Regions from separate parts of the Homo sapiens genome. Here all the other regions are linked to region 1. Evidence: fine-mapped expression QTL. A gene starts in region 1. Each other region holds a variant in brackets. All regions are shown on one strand. Distances are between the middles of the regions. Region 1 holds the start of KLHL25 (kelch like family member 25). Region 2 holds the start of MIR548AP (microRNA 548ap). Region 3 overlaps KLHL25 (kelch like family member 25).

Region 1 (8,178 bases):
ATTTCTGAGACCACAGAGCTGCCATTTAAAAAAAAAAAAAAAAGGCCAGGTGCGGTGGCTCACACCTGTAATCCCAGCACTTTGGGATGCCAAGGCAGGTGGATCACGAGGTCAGGAGTTCAAGACCAGCCTGGCCAACATGGTGAAACCCTGTCTCTACTAAAAATACAAAAAGCCGAGCATGGTGGCGGGTGCCTGTAATCCCAGCTACTGGGGAAGCTGAGGCAGACAACTGGTTGACTTGAGAGGTGGAGATTGCAGTGAGCTGAGATCACACCACTGCACTCCAGCCTGGGCTACAAGGTAAGACTCAGTCTCAAAAAAAAAAAAAGAAAAATGCCAGGCACAGTGGCTCATGCCTGTAATCCCAGCACTTTAGGAGGCTGAGGCGGGTGGATCACCTGAGATCAGGAGTTCAAGACCAGCCTGGACAACATGGAGAAACCCCGTCTCTACAAAAATACAAAAATTAGCCAGGCATGGTGGTGTGTGCCTGTAATCCCAGCTACTCAGGAGGCTGAGGCGGGAGAATCACTTGAATCCAGGAGGCAGAAGTTGCAGTGAACCAAGATGGCGCCATTGCACTCCAGCCTGGGCGACAGAGCGAGACTCCTTCTCAAAAGAAAAAAAGGTTAATAAGCCACACACATCTATCGTTTATCATCCAACAGGGTGCTGGGACAGGGCTTGGAAGGAAAGCAGGAAAGGTTTAGCAGTAAGAAAGAGTGGCAAGAGAGGTAGGGGGCGGGGGTGAGGTGACTGGGGACTCAGGGGAGGGCTGCAAGTCAGCTGCAGAGCAACAAGCACCCAACCTCAATTCTGCACCCAGGGAACAAAAACAAAAAAGGGAAAGGGGAGCCCGGCATGACTGACACCCACTTGGTGCCAGACCCCATTCTAGGGGATTCTGCATAGTATGGTGGTTAACCTTCACCATACCCCTGAAAAAAGCTAACAAAGCTCAATGAGGTTAAGGAACTTGATCACAGACCCACAGCATTTGAACCCCAGTCTGGTGCCAAAGCCCATGCTCTTTCCACTGCTCCTGGGTTAAAAGGACTTAACAGGGAGCCCTTCCTATCCCCAAACCCCTTCGCTTCCCCACCTAATCCCACAGCACCCCTTCCCCAGTTTCTAACAGCCCCAGAAGGACCTGGAGGCAGTATGGGATGATTATGCCTTGAAGATGACAGGTGTCAGCTTTTGACAGCTTTAGGTTGGTATGGCAATGAGGTGGTCAAGGAAAGGGGTTGGAACCTACTGTAGGGGCTGGGCTGACTTCCATCAGCTGGGGATAGCTGCTGATTGATAAGTCCTGTTGGGATGCTGTGACTGAAAGCTGTGGATGCTTAAGTTCTCCCTCCTCCCTCCTCCCCTGCACCTCCCTCCTCTACCCCCAGCTTGTTCCAACTAAGTGTTTCCTGGTGAGGAAAATGCTTCAACAGCCTTGGCTGGCTGAGGCAATTAAATTATGAAATTTACCACATTAGATGAAAACCAGCATCTCAATCAACCAATTCATTTGTGTCTGGCCACTCTGTTTTCTTGTGCCAGCTCTGCCCACACTGGCCAGGCTATGCCTACACTGCCTGGTGGTACAGAGGGACTAGGGGCTCAGACAATGGGCTGGTCTTTGGGACCAGGGGGTAGGTTCTCCCAGGACCCCCAGAGAAGAGAGGCTGCATCCAGAAGCCATCCAGCTTCCTACAAATGCGCTGGACTGCTGACTGTGCGGCCAGACACTACGGACGAGAGCAAACCTTCTACCACCTCCCACTTGCATTCTCCATGGCCTCAACCTGTGCCTATCTTGAGGCTGGCAATGAATTGGGCCTCTGGGAGAAGTGTGGGTGAGCGACAGGACAAAGGTGGCTGCCCTACACCTCGAATCTGGGCGATGACATGCCTTTCTCATCTTAGTCAAGGCATCCTCTCCCCAGGAAGCCTTGCCCACCTGTGTCTCCTTCTCTCCTCTTGCTGCCTCTATCACTACGATGTGTCAGGGCCCCTAATCCATGTGCCAGCACTCCCTCATCTAGGTGCTCACTAAAGGAAGAGTCTCCAGCACCTAACTCAGGGCCTGGCACACAGCAGGTGCCCAATCAAGTCTGTTCAAACAATGAATCAATCAATCAATCAGTCACAAACCACCCACTAAATAACACTCTCACTCATCCTACCCTTCCCCCCGCCCCCGCCCAAGTGATAGACGGGACGAACCAAGCTTGCTTTCACTGGGTAATTGTTCTCTTTTCTTCCTGCTCTCTTCTGCCCACACGGGGTGCCCGCAGATTTAAAACGCTATTAAGGGGCATCGGGCTGCAGAACCTGCTTCCGATGTGGAGCATGCAATTTGCCTATAGCTCTTCTCTCCGCACCACATACATAAATCCAACTGCAGCCCAAGACCCCAGGATGAAGGTGTCTTCCATTTCTACCTCCCTTTTATCAACCACCCTGGAGTCACTGCCTGACAAATGACTCAAAACTGAAATAGCTGCCAGGCCGGAAAAAGACTGACTACGTCAACCTTCACAGGCACAGCTTGTGGACCCAAGAGCCTCCGGTCTTGGGACACCAAATGGACCCTGAGGTGGGGTAGACTTTGTGTCCTACTCTTCCCCAGACCCCCACGCAAGCCTTCACCAACATGCCAGGAATCCTCACAGCTCAGATCAGCACACTGAGCATCAGTTCCTCCTATGAATGGGGAGACTGGGACCCAGGGTCCCAGAGGGCTTGGCCCCATAACGGTCACTGGAATCTGGTCCAGGATACAGACCGTGGAATCCTGCCTCCTCTCCTGGTGCTACTGCTAACTTCCTTCCCTTCCTCTCTCTATTGGGCCGATAGAGTGGAACCAAATGGTCCAGACACCTGGCATTCTCTGCCCTGACTACCGAGGAGAGTCAAAGTCCAGCCCGCCTTCCCCAAGGTCAAATTCACCGGGATCCAGCAGGACCCAAGAGCGTCCAGATTAAATCTGCAGGGGCCTGGGTCCGCCCCCTCACCCACAGTTCGTTGGGTCAGGCCTCTAGAGAGATGTTTCTTTGTTCAAAGACAATGGGAATGCACTTTGGGGGCTTAGAGCAGCAACACAAAAAAAGTATCTGGTATCTCCCGGGCACAATCCCCCAAGAGAAAAGCTTCTAAAGCAACTACGAAAGAGACAGGGGGAGTGGGGGCGTAACATCGCGCGGTGTGTCTCGGAGCCAGGGCAAGTGTGGTAATTAGAGTCAGGCTAGAGGGCTTGCTCTGGACCTGCCAGTCTGGCCGCCACCCAGGTGGACAGGTGGGTGTGCCTTTGAGTGCGACCTTTCTCTGCCGCTGGACAGTTCTGCAAACCGAAACGAGGGACCCTGGCAGGCGGAACGTGAACGGCTCGGGGCTCCGCGGCCAGGCCCGCGCAAACCCTCCCCTTGTGAACCCCGGGCCCTCGCTCTGCGCCAGGCAGGCAGCCATCCGGCCTGGGCGTCCAAGGCGCGGGGCATCGCCGCTCGCGTCCTCAAAGACAAGCAGTCTCTCTTTCCAGGATCAATAGTAATTTTTTAAAAAAAAGAGTCTGCGGACTCAATGAATCAACCACTCCCTGGGGAAAGAGTAGCGGCTCCCGCGCGCAACATCCATTTGCCAAACAATTCATTCCCTCGCGCAGAGCTCTCGGCGAATTCCCTCGCGGAGCCGCGGGGTGCCGGCCGGCCGCCGCTCCCCACCATTGTCCCAGGGCCCCGGCCCCAGCCGCGGGGCCCCCTCCCGGGACACGTAGTCCCGCGGGGGCTCCGAGCGCTTGGTCCCGGCCCGGCCCGGGGTGGTGAGTCCCCAGCGCAGGGAGCGGGGGCGCGGGTGCTGCGGCCAGAGCACGGCGTCCCCGCCCGGCCTGGATACTCACTGCCGGAGACGATCCCCGCCGCCGCCGCCGCCTCAGAGACCACTCCCGGCAGCCCGCGCGAGCTCAACAGGCTCCGCCGCGGCTCCCGTCGGCCGGCTCTCCACAGGCAAAAACGCTCTCGCTGCGATACAGCCTAGGCGCCGCCAACAAACTAGTTTCTCCGGCCTTCCCGCCCCGCCTCCCGGCCCGAAGAGCAGCAGCCAATCAGAGGCATCGCCTCTGTGACGGATGGGCAGCCGAACCCTTCAGTGCAGCCGCAGAAAAGAAGGGGGTGGGCCCCAGGCCGCGCCGGCACCGGGGGGTGGGGGGCCGGGGGCGGGGAGGGGGGGGGACCGGGGGCGGGGCGGGGCGAGGAAAAGGACTTCGACCAGATTCTTAAAGAGACAGGCGCCTGCCCAACCCCGCCGCCCAAGTTTGGGAACAAAACGCGACGGTGTTCTAGAGCTTTCCAGAGGGAGCACTGTAGATTGCATATGCCTCTTTTGTGTTCGGGTCACAAGTGTTGTAGATCTCTTTAGACTCTTCAGAGCCACACTAGTAGTTGCCCGAGTGTTAATGAAACCCTGTCTTTCACTCTGGGCTTGTTTGAATGTTTGGGACTTTCTGCAGCCTCCAAACCCCACCTGTACTTGAAATCTGTATTTTTTGGAGTATTTCAGCTCTCCTCTCTGTGTCATTTCTCACTAAACTCCTTTCGTAAGCCAGCCTTTAAATGTTCGTTCATTCATTCATTCATCCATCCATCCAATAATTTCTTCCAGGAACGTTTCCTGGACGCCCACACCATGCACTCATCTTGGAGGGGGAGAACGGTTTGTGATTCTTCGTCCTTTTCCCTCCTGACTACTACTTCAGCTTACTGTGTGTGTCCAATCTCATCCGTAAAGCGGCAGATAAAAACTCCTCATCGGATTATTTGGGGGATTAAAGGAGACAAATTCCCAGACAAATGAGTGCGCAATAAATGTCCTCTCTTTTCTCCCTCCCAATGAAAATCGATAATTCAAGTAGGTTGCTTAAGGATACAAAAGGTAAAGCATAGAAAGTGATAAGAACGAAAGAGCCAAGCCTGGGGCGGGGAAATTCCCAGGAAGCAGAGGTCACCCTGACGGAGGTGGAGGTGGGAGGTGCAAGGAAGGTCTAAGAAAGTGTACAAAGATTTGGGAGAGGGGATAGGATTGTGACTAGTGGAACCTGGGAAATAGAGCCCCTGGGTAGAAAGCTGCTTAGACAGGACAGATATGCCAGGGTTAAAAGACTGGGAGATGATGAGAAGATACCACCAGGGAAGGCATTTTTGGGAAACAGCTTGATGTTCTGGGTTTGAAGCCCCGCCCTGCCCCTCAAGAGCTGGGTAGGACTGAAGCAGATGGCTCAGACTCTCTGGTGTCTGGTTCTTACTGGTGAAGAGGATTCTAAAACCTTTCTTGCAGGGGTATGGGAAAGATTAAGATAACATATGGAATAGGCCTGGCATGTAGTAAGTGCTCAGTACAGATTTGTGCTTCCATTTGGCCCAGATCTGCAGACATCTAAGGCACCAGGGTTCTGATATTTATGAACAATATTGGCCAGAGGTAAGAAGCTTGCCAAGTGCACTGTTAAGGTGCCTTCTGAAGAGAAAAGGTAGTGAGAGGTGAAGCCAGCTGGACTTTCTGGGTCCAGTGGGGACTTGGAGAACTTTTCTGTCTTACAAGAGGATTGTAAAATGCACCAATCAGCGCTCTGTATCTAGCTAGAGGTTTGTAAAATGTACCAATTAGTGCTCTGTAGAAATGCACCAATCAGCACTCTGTGGCTAGCTAGAGGTTTGTAAAACGGACCAATCAGCACTCTGTAAAATGGACCAATCAGCAGCACATGGGCCTGGACAAATAAGCTAATAAAAGCTGGCCGCCCCCCAGCCAGGAGCAGCAACCCACTTGGGTCCCCTTTGGCGCTGTGGGGGCTTTGTTCTTTCGCTCTCCACGGTAAATTTTTCTGCTGCTCACTCTTTGGGTTCACGCCACCTCTAAGAGCTGTAACACTCACCGTGAAGGTCCGCAGCTTCATTCCTGAAGTCAGCGAGACCACCAACCCACCGGAAGGAACCAGCTCCAACACATTAGCATCAAAGTAATTACTTCATTAAGGAAATGACAGAGATCACATTTGTAGTTTTATCCTGCCGATTTTCTAGCACTAGAGTGTTTATAGAATTGTTGGTTGAATGAAGCTCCACATGCAAAATTGATTCTTGGCAAGTTTATAACTGTTGCTTATTATTTTATGCAGGTTCGCTGTAAAATTATAAGTGCCAACCGCCCAGTAAAATCTGGTCCACATTATAATTTTTTCTCTCTTCAACTCCAAGGCTTAAATTAGGTACTAGAATATATTAAAATCAAATACAGTGTAAGCAATGGGACAAAATCAGACTAAGAACACGTGTGGAGTTAATCGAATTTAGGTACGATTTGAAAGAAGATGAGAGGAAGAGCGGAAGTTTGCCTTGCCATCTATTGCGGACCCTGGAGCATTACCGTCAACGCAGCCCTTACCAGCCAGTGTTGTAATGGCCTGCTTAGCTAGTCCACCTGCTGTGCAGGGAGCTCTGGGAGGGCAGGGACCATGAATTCATCTCAGAACTCTTAGGGCTGCATCAAAGTTGTCTACACAGTTTTGAAATACTGTGAATAAATCTCATATCCGTTAGAATTAGTTTTTACTGCATATGACAGAAAACCCAAAATTAACTGTGACTGAAACAAGATAGAAGTTTCTTGCTTATGCAAAATAAAGCTAAAGTTAAGCTATCCTTTGTTGGCAACTCCACAGTTGTCAGAAACACGGGCTACTGTATTTTTATTCCTTCATCTGTAATGCTTGGTTCCCATTTGCAAGGTTGCCCCATAGTCCAAGATGGCTGCTAGGGCTCCAACTCTGACACCTATATCCCAGACAGTAGGAAGGAATAATGGCGGAAGAGCATGAGATGTGTGTCTTCCAGCCTGGTTAGCTCTATTTATGCAGACTGCAGAAGTCCCACACAACACTTTTGTTTATGGACAGAATTTAGTTTTCCTACCTGCAAGAGCAGCTGGGAAATGTAGACTTTTATGTTAGTACATCACCTCCTCAAAGTCAGGGTTCTGTTAACAAGGAAGAGGGAATAGATGCCTGTTGTCCACCAACAATCCTTACCAATACCTTCCTCCCAGCATTGCCATCTAGCTAGTATTCCTGGTGGCCCAGAATCTGAAGTCTCAGAAATTCTGGGATGATGTATAGAATTCAATATATGTTCGTTAATAGATGATCAAATTCTTGGTTCTTTTTTTTTTTTAAAGATGGGGTTTCACTCTTGTTGCCCGGGCTGGAGTGCAATGGCGCAATCTCAGCTCACCACAACCTCTGCCTCCCGAGTTCAAGCGATTCTCCTGCCTCAGCCTCCCGAGTAGCTGCGATCACCAGGCATGCACCATCACGCCTGGCTAATTCTGTATTTTTAGTAGAGACGGGGTTTCTCCATGTTGGTCAGGCTGGTCTCAAACTCCCGACTTCAGGTGATCTGCCCACCTTGGCCTCCCAAAGTGCTGGGATTGCAGGCGTGAGCCACCGCGCCTGGCCTCTTGGTTTCCTTTCTACCTTCTCAGGTGTTCTTTTTAGTCTCCTCTGCTGATTCCCCCTCACTTCTCAGACCTACAAATATTGGAGCGCCCGGGAAGCGAGCGTAGGGAGCATAGGGAGATAAGAAGACCTATTCCCTTCCCTACCTACACCTTCTAAGTGATTTCATCCAAGCCCATGCCTTACGTTCATATAAGCACTGGCAACTGCCAACTCTGTGCTCCCACCCCGCCTTCTCCATAAGCTCCAAGCCCATGGGTGCAGCTGCTTACTGGGTATCTCCATGTGCATGTCTAGGGCACCTTACCCTCAAACTGTCTCCGCTGAGCTCCTATGGCTGCTCTCCCTGTGGGCTTCCCCATCTCAGGAAAGGACAACGCAGTCTTTCCTTTTGTAAGATAAAACTTGGCATCATTCTCTCCTACCCCATGTCCAATCCATCAGGAAATCCCTGTTGAGTCTGAGTACTTACTACTTCCACTGCCACCCCCAGGCTGGTCTAGAGACACTGTCATTTTCTCTCCTCTGTGACATTATGGCAGCCTCCAGGCCATCTCCCTCTTCCACACTGCTCCCATAGAATCTGTTCTCAACACAGCAGCCAGAGGGATCTTTTTATAAGATAATTTCGTTATGTCTGTCTACCCCTCGAAATCCACCAGTAGCTCCCACCTCACTCA
Region 2 (8,178 bases), 34 kb after region 1:
GACTTGAGAGAGTCAAGTGCACTGCTTGACCTTTGACTTGGGGTTTTATACAATGGCATGCTTCCGGGCTCTGCATCTCTTCTTCTTGATTCTTCCTTGGGATGGGCTGTCTGGGTGCACAGTGGCCTGCCAGCACTTGGGAGGGGCCACATGTGCAGTGTATTTAACTGGAGTTGTGTGCATGCTCACTTGAGGCATTCTCCCCTTACCAGTGTTCCTGGAGGAAGGTCATATACTGGTTAAACTCCGTCATTTTGCCCCTTAGTGTACATACTTGAGCCCACTCACCCAACTCTAGAGATCTCACTGGGAAGCTGCTGATTGCTAGTTTCAGGTGTTTCTCTCTACTAGGAGACTGCCTTTCCCTGGCACCAGCTGTGACCAATTCCTAGGTTGGTGCAAAAGTAATTGCGGTCTTTGTCATTAAAACCAATAACAAAAACCACAATTACTTTTTACTGACCTAAAGATTAATTTAGGGAGACAGTGTAACAAATGCTTTACCATCACCTGATGGTTGCCTGACATTCCTGGTGGTTGGGAGGGTTCCTCTCCTGCCCTGCTCATGGCTGGCTAGCTACCTACTGTAACAAGAGCACAGGCTGTCAAGCAGGTTTTTGGCTTCCCAGACAGGGCCCATGGATTTTGTGAATGCAGCCACTATTTATTGATGTAATCGCTCCACCCTATAGGGCTGGAGTTGTGCTTGGCCACAGAGTGCCAGATGGCCATTAGGTACCAGCTGCTTCCACCCAAGAACACTGTCACTCACAGAATGCAGCTGCACAGATACCAAGATGGAAGCCCCAACAGTTATCATGGATGTTAAGAAATCCTACCGCCACTTCAAATCACAAGACTAGCTAACATATACTGAATGCTTATCACACATCGGGTGCTGTGCTAAGCACTTCATGTGGATTATTAGTTCCTTAAATCCTTCCGACAAGCTATCATTTGACTTTCTAGGGACTCTTCTAAGAATAAAACTATCCTTGAACTACAGCACTGTTTTAGGAATTGTGGGAGTCTTCCCTTCCAACCCAACTCCTGTGTTCTCTTGGGGAATCCTTGAAGAGCTCAATGACTACTGCCCACTAAGTGCCCTCACACTACATGCTCCTTGTCAGCTTTACAGGACATGCGGATCCTGGGAGCCTTACCTCATTCTCTGTTGAAGAGAAGATACAATATAGTTTTTTGTTTATTGCCTGTGTGATGCTAGATCAGCTTGTGCCTTAAACTTGGTATTGAAGGGGTGACCTAGACAGAAACTGCCCAAAGAGTGAAATTTATTTACTAATAAGTATGAATTGTCTGCATGCAAAGGATGCATTTTATTGGAAAAATTTATCATGTCAACATATTTTTACCATATTATCTTGGCTATATTATAACAGTATAATGGAAAGTTATTGACAGGAAGGAACCTATGTTTTCAGTAAACCATCATGGACCATAGAATAAGTCTGCCACTGAAAAGGCTGTATTTATGATTATTGTAGGCAACTTGAGAAAAACCCCTGAGGGAACTTATGGCCAGGTGCAGTGGCTCACACCTGTAATCCCAGCACTTTGGGAGGATGAGGTGGTTGATTCCTTGAGCTCAGGACAAGGCAAAACTCCATCTCTACAAAAAATAGAAAAATTAGCCGGGCGAGGTGGTGTGTACTTGTAGTCCCAGCTACTCAAGAGGCTGAAGTGGGGGGATCACCTGAGCCCAGGGAGGTCAAAGCTGCAGTGAGTCATGTTTGCGCTACTGCATTCCAGCCTGGATGACAGAGCAAGACCCTTTCTCAAAAAAAGAAGTGATCTAGATTTTTTTTTAAAACATGCTGATAGTACAGAAACGTTCCTGGGGAATAATTTGACTGCAAGAGACGTTTTCAAAAAGAACTAAGATAGTTTTGATCCTATCTCAAACCTCCCCTTTAATGATTGAGGCTTTACATCAGTTATTTACAAGAAACCTGGAATGTCAGACAATACAATTTGTAATAATGGTGCAATTACAAAATTTGTGTCTGAAGGTTTTATGAGTCGTTATCAGCACAGCCTATTACTCAGTGGTCTAAGAGAATGGCCACAAAGTTGCTGCAAGTATCTCATCCCTCAGCACACAAGAACTGCCTGTGTAGAAGTACTAATCTGTCGGCATCTCTGGACTTGCTTCAGTCATTTCTGATCAGATTTAGCTTACTGTCTCTAAGACAAACAAGAGTATATTTGGGTTATTTATTTGTATCTATTCAGCTCTTTATCAGAGTGTTTTTTTTTTTTTTTTTTTTTTTTGAGACAGAGTCTCATTTTGATACCCAGGCTGGAGTGCAGTGGTGCAATCTCGGCTCACTGCACCCTCTGCCTCCTGGGTTTGAGAGATTCTCCTGCCTCAGCCTCCCGAGTAGCTGGGATTACAGGCACCCACCACCATGCCCAGCTAATTTTTGTATTTTTAGTAGAGATGGGTTTTCACCATGTTGGCTAGGCTGGTCTAGAACTCCTGACCTCAAGTAATTTGCCCATCTCAGCCTCCCAAAGTGCTGGGATTACAGGCGTAAGCTGCCGCACCTGGCCCTATTTGGCTGCTCCTGTTAGCCCTTTTGCACGGGGCTGGATTCCCTCAATTCACTTTTCCACGCAGACAGCTGGAGTAGGGACAATCAAATTATTTACTTTATAAATTATGCCATTATTACTTCTAAGAGTACTGGTGTCCATTACATCCTTTTCAAAGACTTTCACTGATCAGCTGAGATATCTGGCTTTTTAAGATCCATATTTTTTCTTTATCTTTGCCTCACTGTTTATCGATAGATATACCTGAAAATATAAAAGATTAACATGGTCCAGGGAAGCCAGTGTTTATGGAGTAACTATTTAAAGATAACTGGAGCGGACACTTGTTACTCTAGAAATTTCCCTGTATCTTCTGTTCCCATCCATATGGCTACTTTAGGAGTTGCCATCTTGGTTCAATGCCAGTCTGCCACTGGGCACAGTTGATTGGACCAAATTTAGCTTGCAAGTCAAGCTAGGCCAATCAAAGTTATTTCATGGAGAACTGGATTTGGAAAACAGAGGGTACTGTTTTTCTTTCTGGAAGCTTGATTGACAGGTGTCAAATATGCAAGCTGTTGGCAGCTTTGTGGTTTAGGGAGTACAGGGGTTGGTCCATAGCCAGAAGAAAAAGAGAAGCCAACACAACAAAGAGGGTAGAGGCTGGAGACAGAGGGTATTTTTGTTTCCTGGGGCTGCTGTAACAAATTACCACAAACTGGGTGGCTTATAATGACAGAAAATTAGGCCGGGTGCAGTGGCTCATGCCTGTAATGCCAGCACTTTGGGAGGCCGAGGCGGGCGGATCACGAGGTCAGGAGTTCAAGACTAGCCTGATCGATATGGTGAAACCCCATCTCTACTAAAAATACAAAAATTAGGCGGGTGTGGTGATGGGCACCTGTAATCTCAGCTACTCGGGAGGCTGAGGCAGGAGAATTGCTTGAACCTGGGAGGCAGAGGTTGCAGTGAGCCAAGATTGTGCCACTGCACTCCAGCCTGGGCGACAGAGCAAGACTC[C/T]GTCTCAAAAAAAAAAAAAAAAAAAAAGAAAAAAGAAATCTATGTCACAATGTCACATACCCTTATCTAAACCAATTACCAACAAAGGGTTTGGGAACCCATGATTGGCTTGGACCTATGAGGATTCAGCCCTTGGGCTGGGGCTGTGATCAACCCCTTGTGAAACACAAAGCTGAGCACAGGAGGGCAGATGCTGTTCTGAATCGAAAGAGGAAAGGAGGGTGGGTGAGAAACGCATGTTAAGTAGGCAACCAGCAGTGTCAGTGACACATGGCCGACTTATGTTTTCAAAATCCCAAATGACTCCAGGCACTTTCCACCAGATTTTTTAGCTTACCTCTAAACAGCCATCCATGTGCTGTAGGCAAATTTTGGCAGGAAGTGCCAGAAGGTAGCATCTCGCCCCTGTTCTAATCTGCTTACTGTGCCTCTGACATCAGTAGCACAAAGGGTAAAAATCAGTGCAGTCAGCTCTCCTAATGGCTGTATGACTTTGGAAGTGGCTGTTTGGAAGGTGGTTTTAAGAGACCTGTAAAAGGACAGACATGCTTCATGGTTGTGGCTCCCAGGTAACAACTCTGAAGGACTCAACACCTGGATTCCTGGCCAGAGCCCCTCAGGTGGCCTCCATGTAGGTGCCATAGCAAAGAATCCCATTTTTTTTCATCTAGGAAAAGGGAACAAAGGTGTGGTTCCGATCAGGGTGGTTGGTTTAAGTCCACAAAAATCATCTGTTAAGCAACTACTAAAGGCAAAGATGGACCAAATTGACCTGTTCTTTGTGGGCAGTCTCCATCCAGCTGCTACAGGCTCTAAATGAGCCACCATATAGTATGGCGGCTCATACTATCGGCTCAAGATAGTTGACCTTACAGGTCACCTGTGGAAAGCCATGGAACCCTGGCAGCAGGAACTATTTCTCTTTGGGACCAGGTTCTTGGAGAGAGAGACTAGGCTCAGCTTTCCTGCAACTTGCAGGGTTGAGTCAGGGTCATCTGGCCTGAGGCAGAGGCAGTCACTTGTGGGGACGGTGGGGAGTCTGTCCTAGTCCTCTCACCCCACCCTGGAGAGTTACCACCACTGAGGAAGGAGGAAGGAGATGTTTCTGTTTGTCATCTCATGACATCATCACAGCAGCAAATGATGTGGGCATGGTTGGGAGTGGTGGCTGATGCCTGTAATCCCAGCACTTTGGGAGGCTGAGGCAGGCGGATCACTTGAGGTCAGGAGTTTGAGACCAGCCTGACCAACATGGTGAAACCCTGACTCTACTAAAAATATAAAAATTAGCTGGGCGCGGTGGTGCATCTGTAATCCCAGCTACTCAGGAGGCTGACACAGTAGAATCACTTAAACCCAGGAGGTGGAGGTTGCAGTGAGCCGAGATTGCGCCATTGCACTCCAGCCTGGGTGACAGTGAGACTCTATCTCAAAAAAAAAAAAAAAAGGATTGGACATTAGCACTCCCAAGTTACATTTAAGGAACCTGCGGTTCAGAGAGGATAAGTTGGTTTCCAGGTCACACAGCCAGTTAATGGATTCAGAGCCCATGCGAGGTCCTGATGGATTGGGACACTGGAGATAAACACATGATGGAGGACAGTAGTTCAGGGGAGACCTGGAATGCTACTTGGGAGGGGACTCTCTGAAACAAGAGATAGCTTGGGGACATAGAAGTTGCCCAGAGAGGACAGAGCAGCAGGACAGGAGGTGAACGTGCATCCTCCTATGGCCACCGGTGGAAAATCATATGTATGGGATGCCCAAGGATCAGCTCTCTCCAGGGAGGTAGAGCTGGCTAGGATGGCAGTTTGTGGGAACAGTTTCTAGGAGGCAGGAAAGCACCAGGGGCTGAGGGGAATGGGGCCAAGGGTTGCTGCTGTTACTTGTGGATGCATTACTGGGAGGGCCAGGGGGAGTCCTGGCCGAGAGGAAATCAGACTTGATCAGGGAGATAAAAGCATGGATCAGATTCAAGTAGTAGTGAGGCAAGGATGGAATAGGAAAGGAACAGCAAGCTGAAGGCCTTGGAGGGGCAAGAGCTGGGCCAGGCAAGTGGAGAAGGCTGGACCCGAGGGTGGAGGCTGCCTAGAGCCCCTTATCATGCAGGGCTGCTGGGGGGCCTGAGGATGCCGCACAAGGGAGGACCTGGCCAGCTGGCAGAGCGATGATGCCACCTGTGTGTTTCATCTGAAGAGGGTTTATGACCTGGGGGCTGTATGTGTCCTGAGGGTAGAGAGGAGGAAAGATGGAAGATGGGGGTCTAGAGGGTTAGGGTAGAGAAAAGTGAGGATGTGAGATGCTGGAGGAAAAGTCTCCTGAAGTTCATTCTGACAGCCCTAGCCCTGTCCTCTAATCTCATCTCCCTCCCATTCCCTTCCCAATCCCCCTAGCGCAGCCTTTTTTTTGGGACTGCCAGCCACCCTTAAAGGGAAGGCCCCAACCCTTCCCTCAATTGGGGACCTCAGGGAGAGCTGGCAGGGCCCTGGGGCCCAGAGGGCTGGCTTCCTTCTTGTCAGAGGCAAAACAAAGGCACCTCCAGGGCTCAATGAAAACTCAGTTTGTTTTCTGGCTGTGGCCAAGGGACACCTTTAATTGCAAAACTTAAAACCAGCCCTTGTTGGAAATTGCGACAAGGCCAGACCATATGGGAATGTTTCCCGATGGAAAGGAGCATCTGTTCTCTATAAGATATGCAAATGACGTGTAATTGCACCTTCAGAGAGCTCTGTTTTCCGTCCCCAGCACAGTGCCCACAGGCGGGGGAATCTGACCATGGTTTAAAGTCCTCAGCCCTCCACCCACAAGACAGAGGATCCACGCTGAATCCACACTGCACGCTTCCCAGATTGAGGGACCCAGACCAGCCAGCGCCCTCTGCTGACATTCTCAGTCTTGTACTCAGGGTCCAGAAGGGGTTGAATAAGGCACACACTGCATTCCTATTCTGTTCCAGGTTTTGTGCAAAGTGGGGTTGTTTCCTTTAATGTGGGAGAAAACCCCAATGAGATCTTTTGCTTTGCAGACAAGGTAACCAAGGCTCGGAGGATTTATGTAGTTGGTCCGACATGTCATCTGGCACAGGGTGGGACTGAGATTCACAGCCAGGACTGACCGCTGGAAAAGCCCCTCGCGTGTCTTCTAACATTTACTGAGTGCCTGGGTCATTTCTTTAGCAAATGTTCTCTTATTCTGTCTCCTGTCTGCGAACGCCTGCACTCTCTGTCTCTCAGTCTCTCTTTGTCCCTCCTCCCTCCTGGGAATGGCTGAATAAGGGTCTTCACAAGAAAGGATCATTCCTTCAAAATTAATGCCGCATTTGCTTAAAATGTATTAGAAATGTGTTACAGCAAAAAGCACTTACAATAGCACTGGTAAAATGAAAATGTACATTAAGAAAAATTAGGCTGGGCGTGGTGTCTCACGCCTGTAATCCCAGCACTTTGGGAGGCGGGAGGATTATGTGAGCTCAGGATTTCGACACCAGCCTGGGTAACATAGTGAAACTGTGTCTCTACAAAAAATAGAAAAATTAGCTGGGTGTGGTGGCACACACCTGTTGTCCTAGCTGCTTGGGAGGCTTAGGTGGGAGGATTGCTGGAGCCTGGGAGATCAAGGCTGCAGTGAGTTGCGATTTCATCACTGCACTACAGCCTGGGTGACAGAGTCAGACCCTTTCTCAAAAACACCCAACAAACAAAACAATCACCAAGCCATTTAGAGGAACCAGCCATTCTCTGCAGGAAATAAAGGAACTAAGAGTTACCTCATCACCACTGCCACCACCATCACCACCATCATCATCAGAATGGAGGTGATGCGGTGGGGCTTCCTGGCGCTGCTCTTCACGGCTTGTGAGGAGCTCTGTGCAGCAGCTAGGCCAGGTGAGAACACAAGTCATGGGCCCTGGAGTCAGCCCTTGTGGCAAGTGACTTCCTTCTCTGTGATCTCCTTTCCATCTGTAAAATGGGGATCATAGTTCCTACATGATGGGTTTGTTCTGAGAGTTCAGGTGCTAATGTTTTTAGAAGAGTGCCTGGCCCCTAAGAAGTGTTTAATACACACTAGCTGTTATTACTTTTCAAGATCTTGCAGGAGACCCCGCATGGTGATTTGAGAACTTCCCGGAGTCCTGGGGTGAGAAACAGTGATCGCTCTGGCTTCTTCCACCAGAGGTACCAGGGTTTTTACCTTTTGTACACATCAGGAGGCTTGAAGACATTTGAAAAACTGCCTTAGGTTATAGGGGTCATTTAATCTCCTTGGGCTCCATGAGGTCAGGGAATGTCACTTACAGCATCCTTAGTGTCCAGAGAGTTCCTGGCATGGAGGAGATGCTTGATAAATTCACGCTGAATTGAATGGTGCCTCCTTTTCCTTTTCTTTTTTTGTTTTTTTGATTTCCAGGGATGTGATTTTGGTTCACTGCAACCTCCACCTCCCATGTTCAAGTGATTCTCCTGCCTCAGCCTCCTGAGTAGCTGAGATTACAGGCACGCACTACCATATCAGGCTAATTTTTATATTTTTAGTAGAGACGGGGTTTTGCCATGTTGGCCAGGCTGGTCTCGAACTCCTGACCTCAAGTGATCCGCCCGCCTC
Region 3 (8,178 bases), 29 kb before region 1:
TACCTGGAACTAAACAGCCACGCTACCTACCTGGGGGTGTCCCCCAAGGCACCCTGAGTTGCTGAAAGGAATACAGATGACAGCTAGAGGCACAGGGGTTGGGGAGCCTCGGGGCCAGGCTCCTGTGTTCCCTCTCAGGCTGGGTCCCTTTGTTCCCTCTCAGGCTGGGTCCCTTTAATTTTTGGCAGGTGCTCCCTGGGGCCTGGCCTCAACTGTGAAATGGGCTAATCCTCCAGCTTGCAGAGTGGACAAGGGTCAGCGGCCGCCCTGCACTTCCTGTGTGCAGCAGGTCTTGGCCAACGTGCATCCTGTGGGTTGTTGGTGTAGGGCCTGCCCCACTAGGCTCAGCCTGCCCCATCAAGGGTGGGATGCTGCTCTATCCCCCAGCCTGGCACAGGAACGAATGACTGCTGATGCCTGGACGGACGGACTCCGTCCTGGGCACTTGCTTAGCCAGGCCCAACCCTCAAGGCTGGCAGAAATCCTCAGGCCTGTGCTCTGGGATTTCCCATCTGTAGCAACTTCTTTAAGACAGGAGAGAATGTACTGTACTGTCCCTCCTGCAGCAGTGACGGAGCCCACAGTGGATTAATGAGCTCGGCCTTTCCCAGAGCCAGGACTGGAACCCTGCCCTGCACCCCAGTGGCTAGGCCCCAGCAACACCCTGAAGAGAAGACAAGCTGTCGGCAGCCGGATGCCTGCCTTGCATTCGGCAGCCCCCCCATGCTGGAGGCGGGTGGGAAAGAAGGGTTGGGAGTCTGCGCCTTAAAGGGCCTGGAGTACGGGGTGCCCAGTGGGAGAGAAAGAGAGAGAAGGAGAGAATGTTCACAGCAAGATCACCCTTAGTGGGTAAGCGGGGGCCTCCTGCAGCCGCTGGCTGCTATCCCCTAGGCTGTGGATCCAACCGCAACACTGGAGCAAGGGGCTGCCCTGGAGGTCGCTCAGGTTCCAGCTCAGCAATTCCCCGCCGCTTCTGGACGGCTGCTGGCCAAGCCTGTGCTCTGTGCCAGGGGCGCAGACGTGAGGATGCCCGTGGCCAGCTCCCCAGAGGCGCCTGCAGGCAGGCGGCACACTCAGGGCTCAAGTCCTGCTCCAGCCCTGACTCACCATTCATGTGATGCCAACTGTCTCACCTCTCAGAGTCCTAGTGGGCGCCCTCCAACAGCAGGACCTACGACAAACAGCTCTGGAGAATGACAGGGAACTCGATGCAGACGCTCACACCTATGAAGAGCTCCAACAGGTGGCCAGAACAGGGGAAAAAAAATGCTTGTGGACAAACAGGGGCCATGATCTGGGGTGCAGAGGCCACAGTGTGCAGGGGACCTCCTGGTGGCTTCTGAAGCTAACGTCAGAGTCTTACAGGATGGATGGAAAGGGGCCTCCAGGGACAGGGGCAGTTGGGCCCAGCTGGAGGCAGGAGACTCAGCCATGCTCGTGGGGACTAGCGAGAGCTGGACTTCTCACCAGCATCCTTGGCCTGATCCCCACTGCTGCCTGGGAGAGTAGCGTCAGGGAGGGAAACGTAGGGAGCGGGGTGGTCACAGAAGCCATCTCGGGCCCAGGCACTGCCAGACGACATTCTAGGTGGCAGACGACGATGCGCTGGTTGGGGCTGCAGGCAGCCAAGCTCAGTGGGAAGTGCCATGGTCACCAGGGGCACCCACCGCGGGGGAGGTGGCAGGAGTGCTTTGTTTCCACCCTTCCTGGCCCCGGTCTGCGGCTGCCTGAGTTGGGGGCTCTCCTCTGGCTCAGCCCTGACAGCTCCGCAGTGGCCGCCTGAGCAGCGAGAGCTCTGCTTGCAGCCACTGTGGCTCCATTTCCTGGTGACCCAGGGAAGGCCAGGCATGCCCGGGCAGCGGCTTCTGGGCTGCAGGCCCTTCTATGGAGAGCCCAGCTCACTCCCTGCCTTTGAAGAGAACTCGGACACTGAGCTGTCCAGGCAGAAGCTGGACAGGAGGAGCTTTGCAGAGCATGGGAACAACCCAGGGTCATAGTGAGGGGACAGAAGCCACGGGATTGGGGTGGCCTCAGGCTGAGGAGGGGCTGCGCGGAGGGTCTCTGGATGGCCACCAGGCCCATGAGAAGGAAGCAGCTGGAACGCAAGGCAGTGGCAGAAGCTTAAGAGCAACCCGGACTCAGCGCAGCAGCCAAGGAAGCACACAGCCCAGAACGCCTTGGGGACATGGCTCTGGGATGACAGGGTCTGGAAGTAGCTTCCCCATCAGATCTGGGACTGGCTCAGTCTTGTGTGTCCGCTTCCTCATCCCTAAATGGAGCTGATGACAGCAATCCCATTACAGACTGAGGAGGACTCCAGTGGGCACAGGGCAAGTGCCTGCTGAGGAACAGCAGTCATGGGTGGACAGGCCTTTCAGAGGGAGGGGCTAAGCAGAGACATCTAGAGGCCCTTGCAGCCCACAGCACCCCAAAACCATCAGCATCAGCATCTCCCTGTCCTCCATCGCTACCCCTTTTAAGCTGCTTCTGAAACTGGCAATCACTTGATCTCTATTCTAGTGCTATGAGTAATACAATTTCCACTCCCGTTGTCCAGATGGGGAAGCTGAGCCTCAGGGGAATCAAGTAGCCAGTCCAGGGTGAAGCAGCCAAAAAGTCACAACCAAGACACCATGCATGCTCTCCTTCCAGGGTCCCTGGGATCAGAGCAATTCCTGGGAGAGTACATGGTTCACCAGGTCCAGTTGACAGGGCAGGGCCAGGTGGGAGGGAGCCTCTGACCTGGAGGGTAGGCAGGGGGCAGCCTCTGGTCTGGAGGCTCAGACCAGAGATGGTCTCAGCTGCCTGAGGCCAGCAGCATGGGCCCCCTCACACTGCCCAGCCCGGCTGGCCTGGGGTGGGAGGGGCCTCCATTTCCCACAGGTGACATTCCCCAGGTTTCTAAATGACCTAGAGGATAGCAACAGGGAATTAATGAGGAGATGCCAGTATCCTCTTGGAATCTCACTCCTCAGGGAATCAAGAAATTTGGCAGGTCTGATTTTTCTCTAAAGACAGCAGATTAAAAAAAAAGAAGACCGGGCACGAAGGCTCACACCTGTAATCCCAGCACTTTGGAAGGCCGAGGCGGGTGGATCACCTGAGGTCTGGAGTTTGAGACCAGCCTGGCCAACACGGTGAAACCCCATCTCTACTACAAATACAAAAATTAGCTGGGCATGGTGGCAGATGCCTGTAATCCCAGCTACTCAGGAGGCTGAGGAAGGAGAATCGCTTGAACCCAGGAGGCAGAGGTTGCAGTGAGCAGAGATCGCACCATTACACTCCAGCCTGGGGGAGAACGAGACTGTCTCAAAAAAAAAAAAAAGAAGAAGAAGAAGAAGAAGAAAACAGAAAAGCTGTAAAAGAAAAAAGCAAGCCAGATGCGGTGGCACACGTCTGTAATCCCAGCTACTCAGGAGGCTGAGGAACGAGAATTCCTTGAACCTGGGAGGTGGAGGTTGCAGTGAGCAGAGATCGTACCCTGCACTCTAGCCTGGGTGACAGAGCGAGACTGTCTCAAAAAAAAAAAAAAGAAAAAGAAAAAAGAAAAATAAAAGAAAAAAGAAAACTGGTGTTCCTATTCAGGCTGGCCTCTGTGAGCCCAAACACCCTGTGTTCACCAACTTGATGCTTATGCTTGGGCCCTCCTTGCCTGCCACCATGTCCCTTTAAGGGACTCGAAGGCTTGGCTGGATCTGAGTTAGAGGCTGAGCCATCAGCTTCCATTGAGAAGCAATCCCAGCTAAGAATGACTGCCTTCACTGGGTAGAGCTTTCAGCATTTGTATCAGCAGCCGCTGGCTCACTGAGGAAATTAATGTTTAGCTCGGGCCAGCTCCTGAAAGGGTTCCTATGACCTGAAGCTGAGCCCACACGTGGGGATCACTGCCACCACCCAGCGCTGCAGGATCGTGGGAAGCGGCTGGGCTCCCTCCGGCAGGACAGCTCATCTTCCACAGTCTCGTCCTGTGCTGGAGGCAGAGTGCACCCAGGGATCTTATGCCCCTATTGCAGGGGTGAGGGGCCCAGGACAGCATGAGCCGGGAGAATGGCCAAGGGCTAGTGGCACGCACCCTGGCCTTTCCCAGGCCCTAAACACAGAGGGTGTGTTGGGCACAAAGCCCTTCTCTGGCATCTACCCCAGTACCCTGCCAGGCTGGCCGGGATACCCTCTCTCGTGGCAGGACCTCATGCCGATCCTGCCCCTATTTGCTGCGGGAAGACCCCGCCCCCAGCTCAGCTTCTCAGGAGATTAAACCAGCACCAGATGAGACACTCCTCCCGCCCGTTCCTTCCCTTCACTGCAGGGTCTGCAGGGCCTGGCTCAAACTGCTCCCAGTGTCTCTGTCCCACCATCACCTCCCACAGAGTGCCTTCCGTGTCACCTGTTTTCATAGCGATTCCACACAATGACAGTGTGGCAGCAACCCACAGACACTCGCTCTGCAGGAAGCCCTGCTCCAAGGCCCTCAAGGATGA[C/A]CTCGCTTAAGCTAGACGCCTGCCGGCTTCGAGGAAGGACTTCTCCCCATCCCTTGCATGCTGGTGAGCACACAGCTGCCCCCAGGAGAAACAGGACTCAAACCAAGGCTGTCTGTTCCCACCATGCAGGCTTTGGTGTTTACAGTTAACAGTTTTTTGGAGGACTCCACCATTTAGACATGGATGTCATGCCTGGTTGGCGATCATTTTTTTTTTTTTTTTGAGACGGAGTCTCACTGTTGCCCAGGCTGGAGTACAGCGGCATGATCTTGGCTCACTGCAGCCTCTGTCTCCCAGGTTCAAGTGATCCTCCTACCTCAGCCTCCCAAGTAGCTGGGATTACAGGTGTGCACCACCATGCCTGGCTCATTTTTTGTATTTTTAGTAGGGATGGGGTTTCACTTGTTAGCCAGGATGGTCTCGATCTCCTGACCTCATGATCTGCCCACCTCGGCCTCTCAAAGTGCTGGGGTTACAGGCATGAGCCACTGTGCCCGGCCAGGACTGACTTTCACATTGCCCAGGCTGGTCTTGAATTGGGCTCAAGCCATCTGCCCACCTCAGCCCTCCTAAAGTGCTGGGATTATAGGCATGAGCCACCATGCCCGGGCCTGGTTGGCAATCTTCATACATATCATCACTCATCAGTGCCAGGAGAGTAACACTGTCCTGACTCCATGGGGAGGGGGCCATTCTCCTGGACTCTGCCTTAGTACATGTCTCTTCCCTTGGCTTATCTTAATCTGTATCTTTCCCCTATAATAAACTGTAACTGTGAGCATAACAGCCTTCAGCGACTTCTATAAGTCTTTCTGGCAAAATTGACCGAGGGTGGTTTGGGAGGCCCCCTTTGTTGCACCTGGTGTCAAAAGTAAGAGCAGGCTTGTGTGGAGACTGCACCCTCAGACTCTGCAGGTTGACCTATGCTCCACACAGCACTGTCAAAAGGTCCCTGGGTGATTCTGAAGTATAACCATGTTTGGGAACCACCATGTTGGTCTAACCATGGTTACTGTCCCCATTTTGCAGACTGGTTCAATAATTTGCTCCAGGTTAACTGCAAATAGAAGGCAGAGCCAGGATTTGACTCCAGAGCACACCAGCCACCTGCTGCCCACCCAGACTTCCCTGGAAGACACGGTGACCTTCACCCAGTGGGAAGAGGTGGGACTGCATTCCCCCATGACCTTTCCGGACCCAGAGTGGCCGTGGGCTGCCAGGGACTCACCTGGCTGGGCTCAGCAGGTGCTCCTCACGCGGGCAGGTGCTTCCAGGTGCTGACAAAGGCCGTGGGGATAAGTGAGTAGGGCACTGTGGTGATGCAGTTCCATGTATCTGAAGTGGGGTCATAGCAGTCCAGAGTCTTACACCTCTGGGTCCCAAAGTAGCCCCCGACCACATAGAGCTTGTTGCCGGAAGCCAGGGCATGGCAGGACATGCGCTTGGCAGTCATGTCCCCAATCCGCGTCCACTGGTTGGTCTCACAGTCAAAGCGGTAGGCCGAGGCGGCTGTGAATTCCGTGTCACCTCCCATGATGAAGATCTGGCTGCCCAGGACGGCAGCGGCTGTGTACCGCCAAGGCTGGGGGCACTCGGCCTTGATCGTCCACCTGTTCTCCGAGGGGTCATAGCACTGGACCTTGGACACCATGTCCCGGTGGATGCTGGTTCCTCCGAAAACAAAGAGCTTCAGCTTGGCACTCACCACTGCGGCATTGCTGACGCCATCCCGCAAGGGGGCCACCATCATCCACTTGTTGGCCCCAGGGTCGTATTTCTCCACTTGTTTCAGGGAGACAGAAGGCGAGGCCGGGAAGACCCCTGCCAGGGATGTGTGTCCCCCCACCACATAGAGGCAGTTCTCCAGCTCAGCTGAGCCATGGCCAAAGCGGGCAATCAGCATGGGCGCCGCCTTGGACCATTCCTCATGTACGGTGTCGTACACCCAGACATCCTTGGAGACCCCGTTCTCGGAGCCCCTGCCCCCCGTCACATAGACCTTGCAGCCGATCGCTGAGGCGCTGAACTCCTTCCGGGGGCTGGGCAGGTCGGCCTTGGGGATGATCTCCTTGGCCTTGTGGTCCACCTGGTAGATCTTGTCACACATGAAGGTCTGGCCCCCCAGGATGAGTAGCGTGTGGCCCGCCTTGCGTGGCCGGGCACAGGGGCTGGTGACCACGCCATCATTCTGCAGGATCCTGGTCTTGCAGCGCAGGGCCTCATCCATGATAAGCTTGGTGCGCTCGTCTGCCATGAGGAGGGCCTCGCTGGAGACGGCCTCCTGCAGGCAGTCGGACGGCAGCAAGGCCAGACGCACGCTGCGGAGGAGCTCGGGCAAGTGGACCTTCCGTGGCTCCAGGTCGTGCTTCACCCACTGGAGGATGGCCTCGAAGACCACCCGCTCGTCCTCGGTCTCCAGCTCATCACTCGAGATGAGGTCCAGCAGTGTGTCCTTGGACAGGCTGTTGAAGTCCTCGCTCTGCCTCACCGTCTCAAAGTGCACCAGGCACATGCGCCAGGAGAACTCATACAGCCGGCGGCACTGGTGGGCGTCCGAGAGCAGCATCATGCCCAGGCAGTTGGAGGGGAAAAGGTTCTTCTCCAGGAACTCGGCGGCAGCATCCCGCACATCGTGGAACTGCAGCATGTCGCCTGCCTCCAGCAGTGACTCAGCGTTCTCCTCGTTGATGGCGATGCGTGAGGAGTAGGCAAAGTCCAGCAGCAGCTCCAGCACCTCCGGGTGCAGGTTGTCCTGGAAGTTGACAGTGTCATCCCGGCTCTCCCGAAGGCCATGGCTGAACATGGCCTCAAAATAGCGGCTAGAGGCGGCCAGCACGGCACGGTGACAGGGGAAGGCACGGTCGCCCGCCCAGAGTGTGACGTCGGTGAACATGCAGTGCTTGCGAAGCGTGTTGAGGTGGGCCAGCACACAGTCCGGGTGGGAGGCCTTGTGGAAGAGGGTGACGTTCATGGACCCCGTGCTGCTCCGCGACTTGCGGGTCTCATGGACACTGACCGACATGGTGCGTCAGCTTGTGGGGGAACAAGCCCACAGGTTAGAGGAGCCCCTCCTGCCCATCTGCCCTCTCAGGGCTCACTCTTCAGCACAAGCCCCCTTGTCCCCTCCCACCCACTCTCTGCTCACCTCTGCTAAACCAAGCCCCTCTCCCGCAACCACGTTGCCAAGGACAACACAGGCAAGAGTGGCTGGGTCTCACCCTGCCCTGCAGAAACTGGTTTTGTTCTCAGGGTATGAGCCAGCTCTGGGACAAACATCTCTGGCCTGCAGATGAGCCACCCCCTAGGCAAGCTCCAGTTGAGGCTGCCTCCCATGGTTAAGAGAACATGCAAACGGTGTTCCTGACTGAGGCTGGTGTCCGGGCAGTGCTAAGTAACTGGTGCCTTTGACCACATTCCACTCTCATGACAGTCCTCTACAGAAGCTTCTCTTGTAAGTCCCATTTTAGAGCTAGGGAAGCCACAGCTCAGAGAGGCCAAGAAACTACCCAAACTGCCACAGCCAGGATTCTCACATGGGCTGTCCGGCTCTGGAGCCTGATCTCTGTTCAAGGTGACTAATCCCTGCAGGGTTTGCTGTGGACGCCCAAGCAGAGCCTCACGTACCCACTTCCCTGCTCCCAGCAGGCTCTGCCCTGGGCCGGGCTCCAAGCGGTACTGGCTAGACATCCCCCTTGCC

Evidence for each region. PIP is the estimated chance that this variant, and not a neighbour inherited with it, causes the effect.
Region 2: its variant is fine-mapped to the expression of KLHL25 in unexposed skin (GTEx, PIP above 0.99).
Region 3: its variant is fine-mapped to the expression of KLHL25 in whole blood (TOPMed, PIP above 0.99).

What each region holds. Positions count from the first base shown.
Region 1 is chr15:85,790,877-85,799,054 of GRCh38, forward strand. It overlaps KLHL25 (kelch like family member 25), which reads right to left and starts at 4,049. Exons shown (of 3, transcript NM_022480.4): 1 at 3,890-4,049. RefSeq lists silencers at 3,720-4,019, 4,170-4,239.
Region 2 is chr15:85,825,255-85,833,432 of GRCh38, forward strand. It overlaps MIR548AP (microRNA 548ap), which reads left to right and starts at 381; the gene lies at 381-476. The variant C/T (reference allele first, on the strand shown) is at 3,577.
Region 3 is chr15:85,762,308-85,770,485 of GRCh38, forward strand. It overlaps KLHL25 (kelch like family member 25), which reads right to left. Exons shown (of 3, transcript NM_022480.4): 2 at 5,710-7,513. The coding sequence starts at 7,503. The coding sequence ends at 5,734. Among named protein-coding and RNA genes, the nearest start is that of MIR1276, 4.2 kb to the right of the region's middle. RefSeq lists enhancers at 1-346, 1,081-1,814, 1,815-2,547, 5,479-6,253, 6,254-7,027 and 2 more. The variant C/A (reference allele first, on the strand shown) is at 4,482.